Homo sapiens: one gene and its partners. The protein of the gene in region 4 purifies or fractionates together with the protein of the main gene of each other region. This does not show direct contact. Each region holds a gene or a part of one and is shown on either strand. Other genes may lie near its edges.

The links.
Region 1: the proteins of RBMS3 (region 4) and APOBEC3F purify together in Homo sapiens (affinity purification with mass spectrometry; one large-scale study listed by BioGRID and IntAct). This does not show direct contact.
Region 2: the proteins of RBMS3 (region 4) and MRPL48 purify together in Homo sapiens (affinity purification with mass spectrometry; one large-scale study listed by BioGRID and IntAct). This does not show direct contact.
Region 3: the proteins of RBMS3 (region 4) and RCC1L purify together in Homo sapiens (affinity purification with mass spectrometry; one large-scale study listed by BioGRID and IntAct). This does not show direct contact.

Annotation. Positions count from the first base shown.
Region 1 is NC_000022.11:39,050,864-39,053,667, forward strand, and holds part of APOBEC3F (DNA dC->dU-editing enzyme APOBEC-3F), read left to right. Parts: intron 1-1,210; coding exon 1,211-1,490; intron 1,491-1,713; coding exon 1,714-1,832; 3' UTR 1,833-2,804.
Region 2 is NC_000011.10:73,786,468-73,790,673, reverse strand, and holds the start of MRPL48 (large ribosomal subunit protein mL48), read right to left. Parts: upstream 2,801-4,206; 5' UTR 2,703-2,800; coding exon 2,682-2,702; intron 1,340-2,681; exon of another isoform or gene 1,184-1,339; intron 1-1,183.
Region 3 is NC_000007.14:75,063,803-75,067,302, reverse strand, and holds part of RCC1L (RCC1-like G exchanging factor-like protein), read left to right. Parts: intron 1-510; coding exon 511-639; intron 640-2,654; coding exon 2,655-2,721; intron 2,722-3,500. UniProt on the Homo sapiens protein: Guanine nucleotide exchange factor (GEF) for mitochondrial dynamin-related GTPase OPA1. Activates OPA1, by exchanging bound GDP for free GTP, and drives OPA1 and MFN1-dependent mitochondrial fusion. Plays an essential role in mitochondrial ribosome biogenesis.
Region 4 is NC_000003.12:29,431,071-29,434,570, reverse strand, and holds part of RBMS3 (RNA-binding motif, single-stranded-interacting protein 3), read right to left. Parts: intron 1-3,500. UniProt on the Homo sapiens protein: Binds poly(A) and poly(U) oligoribonucleotides.

The DNA.
Region 1 (2,804 bases), on a different chromosome or scaffold from region 4:
CCCGGTTAACGGATGCCTGGGGAACAGGATGCCAGAAATCACACATGACCTATGATGAGACAGGAAAAGACTCAATAAAATAAAGAAGGAAGGGGCCGAGTGCAGTGGCTCACGCCTGTAATCCCAGCACTTAGCGAGGCTGAGGCGGGCGGATCATGAGGTCAGGAGTTTGACACCAGCCTGCCTAACATGGTGAAATCCCATCACTACTAAAACTACAAAAATTAGCCAGGCGTGGGGGTGTGCCCCTGTAGTCCCAGCTACTTGGGTGGCTTAGGCAGGAAAATCGCCTGAACCCAGGAGGCAGAGGTTGCAGTGAGCCGAGATCTTGCCACTGCCCCCCAGCCTGGGTGACAGAGCAAGACTCTGTCACTCAAAAAGATAAAGAGGAACGGCCAGGTGCAGTGGTTCACGCCTGTAATCTCAGCACTTTGGGAGGCCAAGGCGGGGGATCACGAGGTCAGGAGCTTGAAACCATGCTCGCTAACTCGGTGAAACCCCATCTCTACTAAAAATACAAAAAATTAGCCAGGCGTGGTGGCGGGCGCCTGTAGTCCCAGCTACTTGGGAGGCTGAGGCAGGAGAATGGCGTGAACCCCGGAGGCGGAGCTTGCAGTGAGCGGAGATCGCGCCACTGCACTACAGCATGGGTGACAGAGCGAGACTCAGTATCAAAAAAAAAAAAAAAGAAAGAAAAAGAAAAGAAAAAATAAAGAGCAAGGAGAAGGATGGAAGAAGGGAAATTCAATGAGTAAAAAGCCCTGGGGCCTAGTATGTACCCAAAAAAATGAGAAGTAAAGAAAATAAGGCCATGCATGTGGTTTATGCTCATAGTCGCAGAGTTTTGGGAGGGTGAGGCAGGAGGATGGCTTGAGCCCAAGAGTTCGAGATCAGCCTGAGCAACATGGTGAAACCCAGTCTCTACAAAAATTACAAAAAAATTAGGCAGGCGTGGTGGCACGCACCTGCAGTCCCAGCTAATCAGGAGGCTGAGGTGGGAAGATTCCTTGAGCCTGGGAGGTCAAGGCTGCAGTCAGCCCCAGATCGCACCACTGCACCCCAGCCTGGGCAACAGGAGAGACCCTGTCTCAAAAATAAATAAGGAAACGCCCTGGGGCTCCAGGCCCGCCCTCTGCTCCCATCGCCCCACCCCTGCACTCCTCCTGCTCCTAGTCTGAGCTCCCCTGCCCTCCTCCTCCTCCTTCCCCAGGTGGATCCTGAGACCCATTGTCATGCAGAAAGGTGCTTCCTCTCTTGGTTCTGTGACGACATACTGTCTCCTAACACAAACTACGAGGTCACCTGGTACACATCTTGGAGCCCTTGCCCAGAGTGTGCAGGGGAGGTGGCCGAGTTCCTGGCCAGGCACAGCAACGTGAATCTCACCATCTTCACCGCCCGCCTCTACTACTTCTGGGATACAGATTACCAGGAGGGGCTCCGCAGCCTGAGTCAGGAAGGGGCCTCCGTGGAGATCATGGGCTACAAAGGTGAGACGTTGGGGGGCTGAGGAGAGTGGGTGCGGGAGGGACAGCATGAGGGGCAGGTGTGTCTGCAATGCCGTGGGGCGGGGCAGTGTCCCGGGAAGCCTGCAGGGATGGCGCCAGTGTCCACTGCAACTGGCAGTCAGGAGACCTGGGCTTGGAGGGGAGGGCCCAGGGCTGGGAGAGAAGCCTGCTGGGCCCTCACTGCTTTCTCCTTGTTTTTTCTCAGATTTTAAATATTGTTGGGAAAACTTTGTGTACAATGATGATGAGCCATTCAAGCCTTGGAAAGGACTAAAATACAACTTTCTATTCCTGGACAGCAAGCTGCAGGAGATTCTCGAGTGAGGGGTCTCCCCGGGCCTCATGGTCTGTCTCCTCTAGCCTCCTGCTCATGTTGTGCAGGCCTCCCCTCCATCCTGGACCAGCTGTGCTTTTGCCTGGTCATCCTGAGCCCCTCCTGGCCTCAGGGCCATTCCATAGTGCTCCCCTGCCTCACCACCTCCTCTCCGCTCTCCCAGGCTCTTCCTGCAGAGGCCTCTTTCTGCCTCCATGGCTATCCATCCACCCACCAAGACCCTGTTCCCTGAGCCTGCATGCCCCTAACCTGCCTTTTCCCATCTCCCCAGCATAACCTAATATTTTTTTTTTTTTTTTGAGACGGAATTTCGCTCTGTCACCCAGACTGGAGTGCAATGGCTTGATCTTGGCTCACTGCAAACTCTGCCTACCAGGTTCAAGCGATTCTCCTGCCTCCGCCTCCCGAGTAGCTGGAATTACAGACGCCTGCCACCACGCACAGCTAACTTTTTTTTTTTTTGTATTTTTAGTAGTGACTGGGTTTCACCATGTTGGCCAGGCTGGTCTTGAACTCCTGACCTCAGGTGATCCGCCTATCTCAGCCTCCCAAAGTGCTGGGATTACAGGCGTGAGCCACTGGCCCGGCGGCACAACCAAATCTTATTAAACTCACCCTAGGCTGGCCGCGGTGACTCATGCCTATAATCCCCCAGCAATTTGGGAGGCAGAGGTGAGAGAATCGCTTGAGCCCAGGAATTCGAGACCAGCCTGGGCCACATGACAAAGCCCCATCTCTACAAAAAAATTACAAAAAAAAAAAAAACAGGTGTGGTGGCATGCACCTGTAGTTGAAGCTACTTGGAAGGATGAAGTGGGAGGATTGCTTGAGCCGGGGAGGTGGAGGCTGCAGTGAACTGAGATCACGTCACTGAACTCCAGTCTGAGCAACAGATCGAGACCCTGCCTGAAAATAAATCAATAAATAAACTCAACCGAAATGGGTATGAAAGTTGAAATGGG
Region 2 (4,206 bases), on a different chromosome or scaffold from region 4:
GGTTGCTCAAGCCTGTAATCCCAGCACTTTGGGAGGCCAAGGTGGGCAGATCACGAGGTCAGGAGATCGAGACCATCCTAGCTAACACGGTGAAACCCCGTCTCTACTAAAAATACAAAAAATTAGCCAGGTGTGGTGGCGGGCACCCGTAGCCCCAGCTACTCCAGAGGCTGAGGCAGAAGAATGGCGTGAACCCGGGAGGCGGAGCTTGCAGTGAGCTGAGGTCGGGCCACTGCACTCCAGCCTGGGTGACAAAGCGAAACGCTGTCTCAAAAAAAAAAAAAAAAAAAAAAAAAAAAGGCCGGGTGCGGTGGCTCACACCTGTAATCCCAACACTTTGGGAGGCTGAGGTGGGCGGATCCGGATCACGAGGTCAGGAGATAGAGACCATCCTGGCTAACATGGTGAAACCCCGTCTCTATTAAAAATACAAAAAATTAGCCGGGCATGGTGGTGGGCACCTGTAGTCCCAGCTACTCAGGAGGCTGAGGCAGGAGAATGGCATGAACCCGGGAGGTGGAGCTTGCAGTGAGCCGAGATCGCGCCACTGCACTCCAGCCTGGGCGACAGAGGGAGACTCTGTCTCAAAAAAAAAAAAAAAAAAAAAAAAATTAGCTGAGCATGGTGGTGTACACCTGTAATCCCCGCTGCTCATGAGGCTGAGTGAAAAGAATCACTTGAACCCAGGAGTTCAAGGATTTAGTAAACTATGACTGCACCATTGCACTCTAGCCTGGGTGACAAAGTGAGACCCTGTCTCTAAACAAAAACAAAGCCTAGGTTCCAGTCATTCATTCAAGCCATCAGTATGACATTAAAGTCTCTATTATATACCAGACATGAGGCTTCCATTTCCTCATCTGTTGCATCTGCCAGGATTATCTCGTGATATTGTGAAGATCAAATGAAATTGTGTAAATGAAAATTTATTAACTATAGAACAATATCAATATTATTATTTGCATCATCCTTCATTCCTTACAAAATATTCCTGTTTACATTATTCCCTATAGTCTCTACAATTCCATGTGGTGGGCATCATCTGCATTTTACAGATAGGAAACAGAAGCAGTAAAGTTAAATAACTTGCCCAAGGTCATAACAAGAGACAGAACTGTCTGACAAATCCCATGACCTTCCTTATAAATGTAAAGTATTAACTAACACTTTGAGACAGACTTACATTTGGCAAATAATGACGAGGTTAGCTGACTAAAGCAACTAAGGAGTCGGGAAGAGAACAGTGGCATCAGACGTCGAGAGGCCTTATATACCCATGTCAGATGCTGGCCTTAATGACAGATTTCCATGGGCTCTTTTCCAGGAGTTCCAGACCAGCCTGAGCAATATGGTGAAACATGGAGAACCGAATGGTTGGAAATAGTATTCCTTGAAAAATAATCCCTCCCTTTTAGCCCTTCTTGGAACCAAGGCAAATCAAGGAGTGTAGTCACCAGTGTGACCATCTTTAACAATGGAATTTTGAAACTTTCTGATTTTTTTTTCTATTATCTTGGCACCATATTTGGCCAAATTCTTACAAACTGGCTAAGGTGAACAAGTGAATTGTTTCATAAAGGATGAAGTGAGGCGTGGGCCCTCACACATTCAAGGGCAGCCCCAAGGTAACCACAGGTAGACCCATGAGCTGCAACGACCATGCTGACCTATGAATCATGGAAATATAGTTGCCACAATTAATGCCTAAAACAAAATTTTAATATAAATTGCTAAAATGAGTCATTAATCTAAGCAGCATGATACAATTGAAAGAGCACAAATGAAATCTGTTAAATCTGTTAAGGGAACGGGAGAAAGCCCAGGAACACATTTATAGTGGTTCATACGGTTTTATGACAGTCACTTAAATAAGGTTTTGGAAACGAAAATGTTGTTAATTATTGCAGGGCGCGGTGGCTCATGCCTGTAATCCCGGCACTTTGGGAGGCCGAGGCGGGCAGATCACGTGGTCAGGAATTCGAGACCAGCCTGGCCAACACAGTGAAACCCCGTCTCTACTAAAAATACAAAAATTAGCCCGGCATGGTGTCCCGCGCCTGTAGTCCCAGCTACTGAGGAGGCTGAGGCAGGAGAATCGCTTGAACCCGGAAGGCGAAGGTTGTGGTGAGCCGGGATCGCACCACTGCACTCCAGCCTGGGCAACAGAGCGAAATCCGTCAAAAAAAAAAAAAAAAAAAAAAGAAAGAAAAGAACAAAAACCTAGTTTATTACTGCTGTTTCCTTATTACCAGGTAGCTTCACATCCTCATCAGTTCAGCAAGTCAAAACTGCATTCTTAGAAAAAATTCTGGAAGTTGATAACTGAATGCAAATATAAAATGACCTGCCCAAGGTCACACAGTTAATCGGGACCGTATCCTGGTGTCGTGATTCCCATCGCAGAGCTCTCCCTTTTCCAGAAACTGGGTGGAGAGAGTGGCATGTGGTGTGGGCGTGGCACGGGTCGGCTCGGCAGAGTTCGCCCCGGGTGGAAAGGAATCTGCTCAGCCCCTTCAACGCCAGGCAGCCGCATGTGCTGCTGGGAAGGACCTTGGGCGCCCCAGTGTCTCATCCCCGGATGTCCGCGCGCCGCCACCTCCCCGCTCTGCACCCTCCGCCATCTCCCCTCTCTGCACCGTCCGCCATCTCCCCGCGCCCCGCGTGCGTGGAATCTACGTTACCTTTTCCAAGGTTCCGCTCATCCTTTGCTGCTGCGCGGCCTCTAGCTGTGCAAACCGAAGACCGGACCCTGCAGCCGCGTTCCCAGGGCGTCTGAAAACACTGAAGGAACGGCCTTGACCAGGTGCAGCAGCAATATCCCACCGAGACTCACTCAACTTCCACATCATTTTAGTTCCGGAAGCTTCTGAAATTCAGAGTCTAGAAATTCTCCTGCTTTCCACCCTCACTCAGGTTGTCACATTCACTGCTGTTTCTCCAGAAAGAATTAATTACCATCTCTGTGTTACCCCAGTACTTAGCACACAATTCTAATTTTTCGCTTACAATATTATACACTAATGATTTGTTACCACCTCTTCTCTGTATTTGAAAGTTCTTAAAAGACTGAGATCCTGTCTGATTAATTCCTTTCAGCGTCTAGCACAGATCTGACTTTTTTGTTTGTTTGAGACGGAGTCTCGCTCTGTTGCGCAGGCTGGAGTGTAGTGGCACGATCTCAGCTCACTGCCACCTCCGCCTCTCGGGTTCAAGCAATTCTGTCTCCAAGTAGCTGGGATTACAGGTGCCCGCCACCACGCCCGCCTAATTTTTATATTTTTACTAGAGATGAGGTTTCTCCATGTTTGTCAGGCTGGTCTTGAACTCCCGACCTCAGGTGATCCGCCCGCCTCGGCCTCCTAAAGTGCTGGGATTACAAGCGTGAGCCACCAGGCCCAGCCAATCATCTCTTAAATTGAGTTTAGAAGTCAGATTTCCACGTCCTGTGCTAGATGCTGGAATAAATTAGTCAGGATCTCAGTCCTTGAGGAACTCAATCAAAATAATAGCAAAAAATAATTAGTATCTAGTAACAAATAATTAGTATCTAGTATGGTAAGTGAAATACCAGAATTGTGTGCAAAGTACTGAGGTAACACAGATACGACAATTAATTATGCTTGGAAATATAATGGACCAGGCATACCTCCTCCAGTACAGTGATTGATTATTGCCTAATAAATGCTATTGGGGTTTTAGAAGTGAAATTTTAAATAAGAAAAAAAAAATCAATCAAATGCTAGTATGTGCCAGGTCGGTTCTTTATGGGTGTATGGGTTCATTTAGTCTTTCCAATAACCCTATGAGGCTGAGGATCATTATACCCATTTCACAGATGAGGAACAGAGACAGGAAGAAGGTACCTAGTTAACATAATGTTATATAAGTGGTGAGCTGTTTCATTTCCGTGCCTGTGCTTCATCTATTTTATGGGACTGTGACTATAGGTTTGCAAAAGGGCAGGTTGGCAGCCAGAGAGTTTCTTTCCTTGTCTAGTCCAGGTAAATACAATCTAATAAGATACATGGCCGGGTGCGGTGGCTCATGCCTGTAATCCCAGCACTTTGGGAGGCCAAGGCAGGCGGATCACAAGGTCGGGAGTTTGAGACCAGCCTGACCAAAACTGTGAAACTCCGTCTCTACTAAAAATACAAAAATTAGCTGGGCGTAGTGGTGCATGCCTGTAATCCCAGCTACTCAGGAGCC
Region 3 (3,500 bases), on a different chromosome or scaffold from region 4:
CCAGATGAAGTCTCGCTCTTGTCCCCCAGGCTGAAGTGCAATGGCGCAATCTCAGCTCACTGCAACCTCCGCCTTCCGGGTTCAAGCAGTTCTTCTGCCTCAGCCTCCCGAGTAGCTGGGATTAGAGGCGCCCGCCACCATGCCCGGCTAATTTTTGTATTTTAAATAGAGATGGGGTTCACCATTTTGGCCAGGCTAGTCTCGAACTCCTGACCTCAGGTGATCTGCCCGCTTCGGCCTCCCAAAGTGCTGGGATTACAGGCATGAGCCACTGCGCCCAGCCAGAAGACCAAGTATGCTTTTCTGGAACCCGCATTATGTAATAGAGACAGCCCATGCCATGGGCTGGGAGTTGGGCTTCTGGTCCTTGCTCTGCGCCTAACTTACCTGTCTTGATGAGTCTTTCCTACCTCCGACTCTCTTTTTTCCAGTGTAGTAGCGTGGAGTTGGACAGTATGATTTCCAGTGGTAGAAATGCATGCCTCAATCAGTGTCCTGTGTCTTTTCCAGCGAGGGGCTACGAGTATGTGTTGGAGCCCTCACCCGTCTCCCTGCCTCTGGACAGACCTCAGGAGACACGGGTGCTGCAGGTCTCCTGCGGCCGAGCTCACTCTCTTGTGTTGACTGACAGGGAAGGAGGTGAGTTGACCTATTGAAGGGTGATGGAAGAGTGCAGGGACCATTTCACTGTGAACTGGAGCCTCAAATCAGGCCTGAGTGGCTTGATCGATTGAGCCACATCTAATGAGTGAAATGTGGTATTTCCTGAGCAGATCAGTGGGATTGCTCAAGACAGCTGGACAAACCTTGTTGATTCTTTATTTATTTTTATTTATTTATTATTTTTTTGAGATGAAGTCTCGCTCTGTCGCCCAGGCTGGAGTGCAGTGGTGTAATCTCGGCTCACTGCAAGCTCCACCTCCTGGGTTCACGCCATTCTCCTGCCTCAGCCTCCTGAGTAGTAGCTGGGACTACAGGTGCCCGCCACCACATCCAGCTAATTTTTTGTATTTTTAGTAGAGACGGGGTTTCACCATGTTAGCCAGGATGGTCTCAATCTCCTGACCTCGTGATCCGCCCGCCTTAGCCTCCCAAAGTGCTGGGATTACAGGCGTGAGCCACTGCACCTGGCCACCTTGTTGATTCTTATGTGCTCTGCTCTCTGGTTCTTGGAAAATCACATGTATTTATAAATGTAACTGCACACAAGGCAGCCTGATCCATTTGCTATGAAGTCCCTGAGCTGGGTGGTGTGTAGACGTGGCTTTTTCTTTTTTTTTTTTTTGAGACAGAGTCTCGCTGTGCTGCCCAGGCTGGAGTGCACTGGTGTGATTTTGGCTCACTGCAACCTCTGCCTCCCAGGTTCAAGCAATTCTCCTGCCTCAGCCTCCCGAGTAGCTGGGATTACAGGTGCCTGCCACCACGCCTGGCTAATTTTTGTATTTTTTGTAGAGACGGGGTTTCACCACATTGGCCAGGCTGGTCTTGAACACCTGACCTCAGGTGATCCGCCCACCTCGGTCTCCCAAAGTGCTGGGATTATAGACGTGACCCACTATGCCCGGCCGGAAGTGGCTTTTTCTATTGGAATTGAAAGAAGCCTATTTGCTAACACATACTCTAAGTAGTTGGGGGCTTTCAGAGTCCGGGCCCCTGGGTAACATGGCCTCTTTTTAGAAACGGGGTTTTTCCAGGGAAAGGTCAATGTGATCACATTTTTCACATTTCATTTTTCTTTTTTTTTATCTGAGACGGAGTCTTGCTCTGCCACCCAGGCTGGAGTGCAGTGGCACGATCTCAGCTCACTGCAGCCTCTACCTCCTGGGTTCAGGTGATTCTCCTGCCTCAGTTTCCCGAGTAGCTGGGACTACAGGCACCCACCACTGTGCTTGGCTAATTTTTGTATTTTTAGTAGAGACAGGGTTTCACCATGTTTGCCAGTCTGGCCTCGAACTCCTGACCTCAAGTGATCCACCTGCCTTGGCCTCCCAAAAAGCTGAGATTACAGTCATGAGCCACTGTGCCTAGCCTCAAATTTCATTTTCTGGCTGAGTGTGCTCTGTAGGAGAAGGCGGAGGTGGCATTTAGGAGCTCTTTCTTTTTTTTTTTTTTTAATTAAAAAGTAAACGTTAATGTCGAAAATGCAAACTTGGGGAAGATGGGAAAGATCACACACAAGGCTGTCACTTCACACTTGGAAGGTTGCACAGCGGCTGGGCAGAGGTGCTTCTCACTTCCCAGATGGGGCAGTGGCCAGGCAGAAGTGCTCCCCACTTCCCAGACAGTTGACGACTGGGCAGAGGCGCTCCTCACTTCCCAGACAGGGCAGAGGCGCTGCATTTAGGGGCTCTTTCTAGAGGGGATTGGTGTTAAGGGCAGCCTGGTGACAGGTGTGGGGAGTCCGGTTCTAGCCTCAGAAGGTGGAATTCCCAAGAAGTGGATCTAGGGCCAGGAGGGGAAGGCGGGTCTAGATTCCCCCATGCCCCTTGTGAGTTTCTGCAGAGCCTGAGAAAGTTGGAGAAGGAAACCCAGGGGCAGTTGGGGGGTGGGGGTGAGTAACCAGGACGGGACCACCAGCGAGACCCCTTCCAGTCCTCACATTCTAGGATCCCACAAACCTGCAGAACTGATTTGATTGGTGGTGTTATTTTTAGTCTTCAGCATGGGAAACAATTCTTATGGGCAATGTGGAAGAAAGGTGGTCGAAAATGAAATTTACAGGTGAGTTCCTAAAAGGCCTACCCTTCCCCATGTTGAGTTAAGTGTCAAAACATTTCTAGGGAGATGACTGTGGTAAACCCGCGGGGCGGTCAGAGGCATGCCTGAGAGGGGGCCGTGAGAACTCAGCAGAAAGCTGGGGGAGTGCTGTCTGTTTCAGGTTGAGCGCCATGTGTTAGCTTGGTGGGAGAAGAGGGGGCATGAGCATTGGTTTTAATGTGTAAAACCTCCGGATAAATTTTTTTTTTTTTTTTTTGAGATGGACTCTTGCTCTGTCGCCAGGCCAGAGTGCAGAGGCGCAATCTCGGCTCACTGCAACCTCTGCCTCCCAGGTTCAAGTGATTCTCCTGCCTCAGCCTCCTGAGTAGCTGGGACTATAGGCACGTGCCAGCAGGCCCGGCTAATTTTTGTAGTTTTAGTAGAGAGGGGGTTTCACCATATTGGCCAGAATGGTTTCCATCTCTTGACCTCATGATCTGCCTGCCTTGGCCTCCCAAAGTGCTGGGATTACAGGCATGAGCCCCCACGTCCTGCCCTCTTAGGATGAATTTTTACAAATTAAGTTTTTATTTTACCAAATTGATTTTTAAACATTCCCCTTTATTCATTTTATTTTTATTTCATTTTTTTCATTTTATTTTTATTTATTTTTTGTTTGTTTGTTTGAGGTGGAGTCTCACTGTGTTACACAGGCTGGAGTGCAGTGGTGAGATCTAGGCTCACTGCAACCTCCGCCTCCCAAGTTCAAGCGATTCTCATGTATCAGCCTCCCGAATAGCTGG
Region 4 (3,500 bases):
CCTGGCCCTCCATTCAGATCAGCATAAGTCAGCCATAAAAGGGACAAAAAACAGTTATCAGGTGCTCCTGGCAGTAGCATATGGCATTTGAACTTGTCTCTGACTATAGTGACTCTCCTTAGATTGGTAAAGTAGCATATCTTCTTCCCTAATAAAATAAAACAGTCACTTTTGGCAATAAACTCTGACCCTAGCTTACCTTTAATACCCAAGCATCTTTGGTTTCCCTCTATTACCTTGTTCCCTCCTTTTCTCCAAAGAAACTCCCTCCTATTGTTTTCCTCAACATTACTGTTCAGCATAATTCCTGATACAAAGAAATCATTCCTATAAATAGTGATTCTATGAATGACTGAATGAATGAAACCATCTTAGCTCTTTCTCATATTCCCAAAATCGTTTCTTTACATTGAATGTTCCTTGTTTGCAAGATGGAGCTACCATTCTTTCCTTACCTTCAAGATCCTCTTTAAATTACTCTAATCCAGGATCCCAACCTAGGCACTATAAACCATCTGGACAGGATAATTATTTGTTGTGGGCACTGTCCTTGTTCACTGTAGGATGTTTAGTAGCATCCTTAGCCTCTATCTCCCAGATTCTAGTAATGCCCATTCCCCAGATGTGATCACCAAAAAATATTCCCAGACATTGCCAAATGCTCCCTGGTGCTGGTAGGAATCTCCCCCTGGGAGAACCGCTGTTTTAATTCATTACATTATTATATGGCAAAATTAAAATGATAAAATGACTCCCAGAAAATTGCAATAAACAATGTGAGGGTTTTTAAAATTATACATACCAGAATTCATAGATATATATTTACTAATTATGCTTCTTTTTTTATACAGGCATATCTTCAAAAGTTCTCAACTAACACTGACTGTCTAGGGTTGAGTCCCTGCTGTGCCTCTTACTGGCTATGTGACCTTTAAGTGGTGCCTTAACCTCTCTGAGAAGCAGCATTCTCATTAATACGAAGGAGATAATAACGGTACTCTCTTAAGTTAGAAGATTTTTTCAAAAAGTTGAGTTAATGCAAACAAAATGGTTCCTAGAAATTAATAAGTGTACAATATTAGCAAAAATAACAATAATATGAATATTCATGGTTTGTATCTGTCTTGTAGTAATATCAACCTATATAACTGTCCCAGATTTTCTCAGTTGTGACCCCAAATGCTACCCAAAAACAAAATAAGCACATTCATCAAGATTCCAGTGGGGAAACTTTGGGCTGGGTTCTCATCTGAAGATGAAGAGTCTTTAGCTATTTTATCAGATTTGGGAGGTATGTCTTTGTCAAACAGCACATTTTTGGCACATTAGCAAGTAAGTATTCAGATGAGGTCAAACTATAATACATTTTGTGCCATGGCATAAAGGTAAGGAATAATATAATCTGAGGGAAAAAAATGTACTTTGTGTCTCTACAGTTTCATTCTAAAAAAAAAAACCTCAAGAAACATATTCAACATGAAAATAGTATGTCTTTTCATCCCAAAACTTCTGCTGCTGACCAAATTGACAGGCCTAGTGGGTCTGGGTAAATAATGAGATGTCCTGGAAATAGAACTGACTGTGGCCTTAATCACAGACAGCTAAACTTTGTATGTAGAATCCTGCAGTGGCTTCCCACCAAACTTATTACAAAGTCCTGAAAGCTCCACATGATTTTTTATCAGACTTTTTCTCCAATCACTTCTTAGACCAGACACTGTGGTACTCCCAACTTTTCACCCTTCCCATTCTCAGCCCCACTCTACTCGGCTGGCTCTAATCCATCCTTCTGATTTCAAATTAAGTATCATCCTACAACACTCTGGTATTTTCCTTCACAGCTTTCAGTGTATTGGGTCTTATTTAATTATTTTTGGCTTATTTAATGCCTGCCTCTAACAGTAATCTGTGTTTCCTGAGAGCAGGGAATGTGTCAAACCATACATGAGTATGTCATGTATGTAGCCTAGTGCCTGATATACAGTAGGTGCTTGAGAAATATTTAGGTTACTATATATATAATAAAAAATGGAATAAAGACAGCACTTAGCATTTAGAGAAAGAAGGCCAAGTTTTAGCAGTACCCAGCTTCATTTCTTGCAATAGTAATCTGTTTTACACCTTCCAGGATTTTAAATTTGGTCAGTCCCTATTTCCCACTGTCTATAAGACAATGTGCTTTAGATTCAGTATATCACATGCAACCCATTGCACCTATTCTCTCATTCCCAATTCCCCACACCAGCCACCCAATACAATTACCCCATATCTTTCAATGTTGCTGTTGTTCTGCCAGTCTCCATGCTAGAAAACTTGGTGTTAGCTTTATCTGCTTCTTAATTCTAAATCTCAGAATACAGTCAGCCACCAAAATCTCAAACAGCCTCCTGGAAACCTCCTTTTCTCTGAATTCCCATTGTTTCCCTCAGCCAGAGACTGTACCATCTCATATGCAGCGAGCTTCAAGCTTTCTATCATGTTTCACCTTTTATGCCCCTTATTTTTGGGAAGGCAGGGTAGGTTGGGAATAAGAAAATTGTCCAGACTGGGCACTATGGTTCACGCCTGTAATCCTAGCACTTTGGGAGGCTGAGATGGGTGGACTGCTTGAGCCCAGGAGCTCGAGACCAGTCTGGACAACATGGCAAAACCCCATCTCTATAAAAAATACACAAAAATTAGCTGGGTGTGGTACCATGTGCCTGTGGTCTCTGCTATCCAGGAGGCCGAGGTGGGAGGTTCACTTGAACCCTAGAGGCTGAGGCTGCAGTGAGCCATGATGGCGCCACTGCACTCTAGCCTGGGCAACAGAGCAAGACCCAGTCTCAGAAAAAATAAAAAGTAAAAATAACAAAGAAAGAAAATTGTGCAACGCAAACACACATTGACCAACAGTTGAGAAATGCACAAGTGAAAGAATAGACATGACAGGAGCAAAACCCAGAGCCTCCAGATTTCTTCTTTGAAATAAACGTTTTTTGGCTGGGCGCGGTGGCTCACGCCTGTAGTCCCAGCAGTTTGGGAGGCTGAGGAGGGCGGATCACAAGGTCGGGAGATCAAGACCATCCTGGCCAACATAGTGAAACCCCATCTCTACTAAAAATACAAAAATTAGCTGGGCATGGTGGTATGTGCCTATAATCCCAGCTACTCAGGAGGCTGAGGCAGAAGAATCACTTGAACCCGAGAGTCAGAGGTTGCAGTGAGCCGAGATTGCGCCACTGTACTCCAGCCAGGCGACAGAGTGAGACTCTGTCAAAAAAAAAAAAGAAAAGGAAAAAGAAAGAAAGAAACATTTTTCTCAACTATTCTTTAGTATTGCTTTAGTATCAACATTTTTCACATAGAATTTTAAAATGAATTTTAAAATGAATTATACAGGATAAAACCTTCTTTTCCTGGTATTTGGATTAAATAGAATATATTCATTGCCTTTTGAAATTTAATATCTACAGAAAGCTCAAGTTTCTTAGCTAGCATCAAAAACTATGACTTATTTC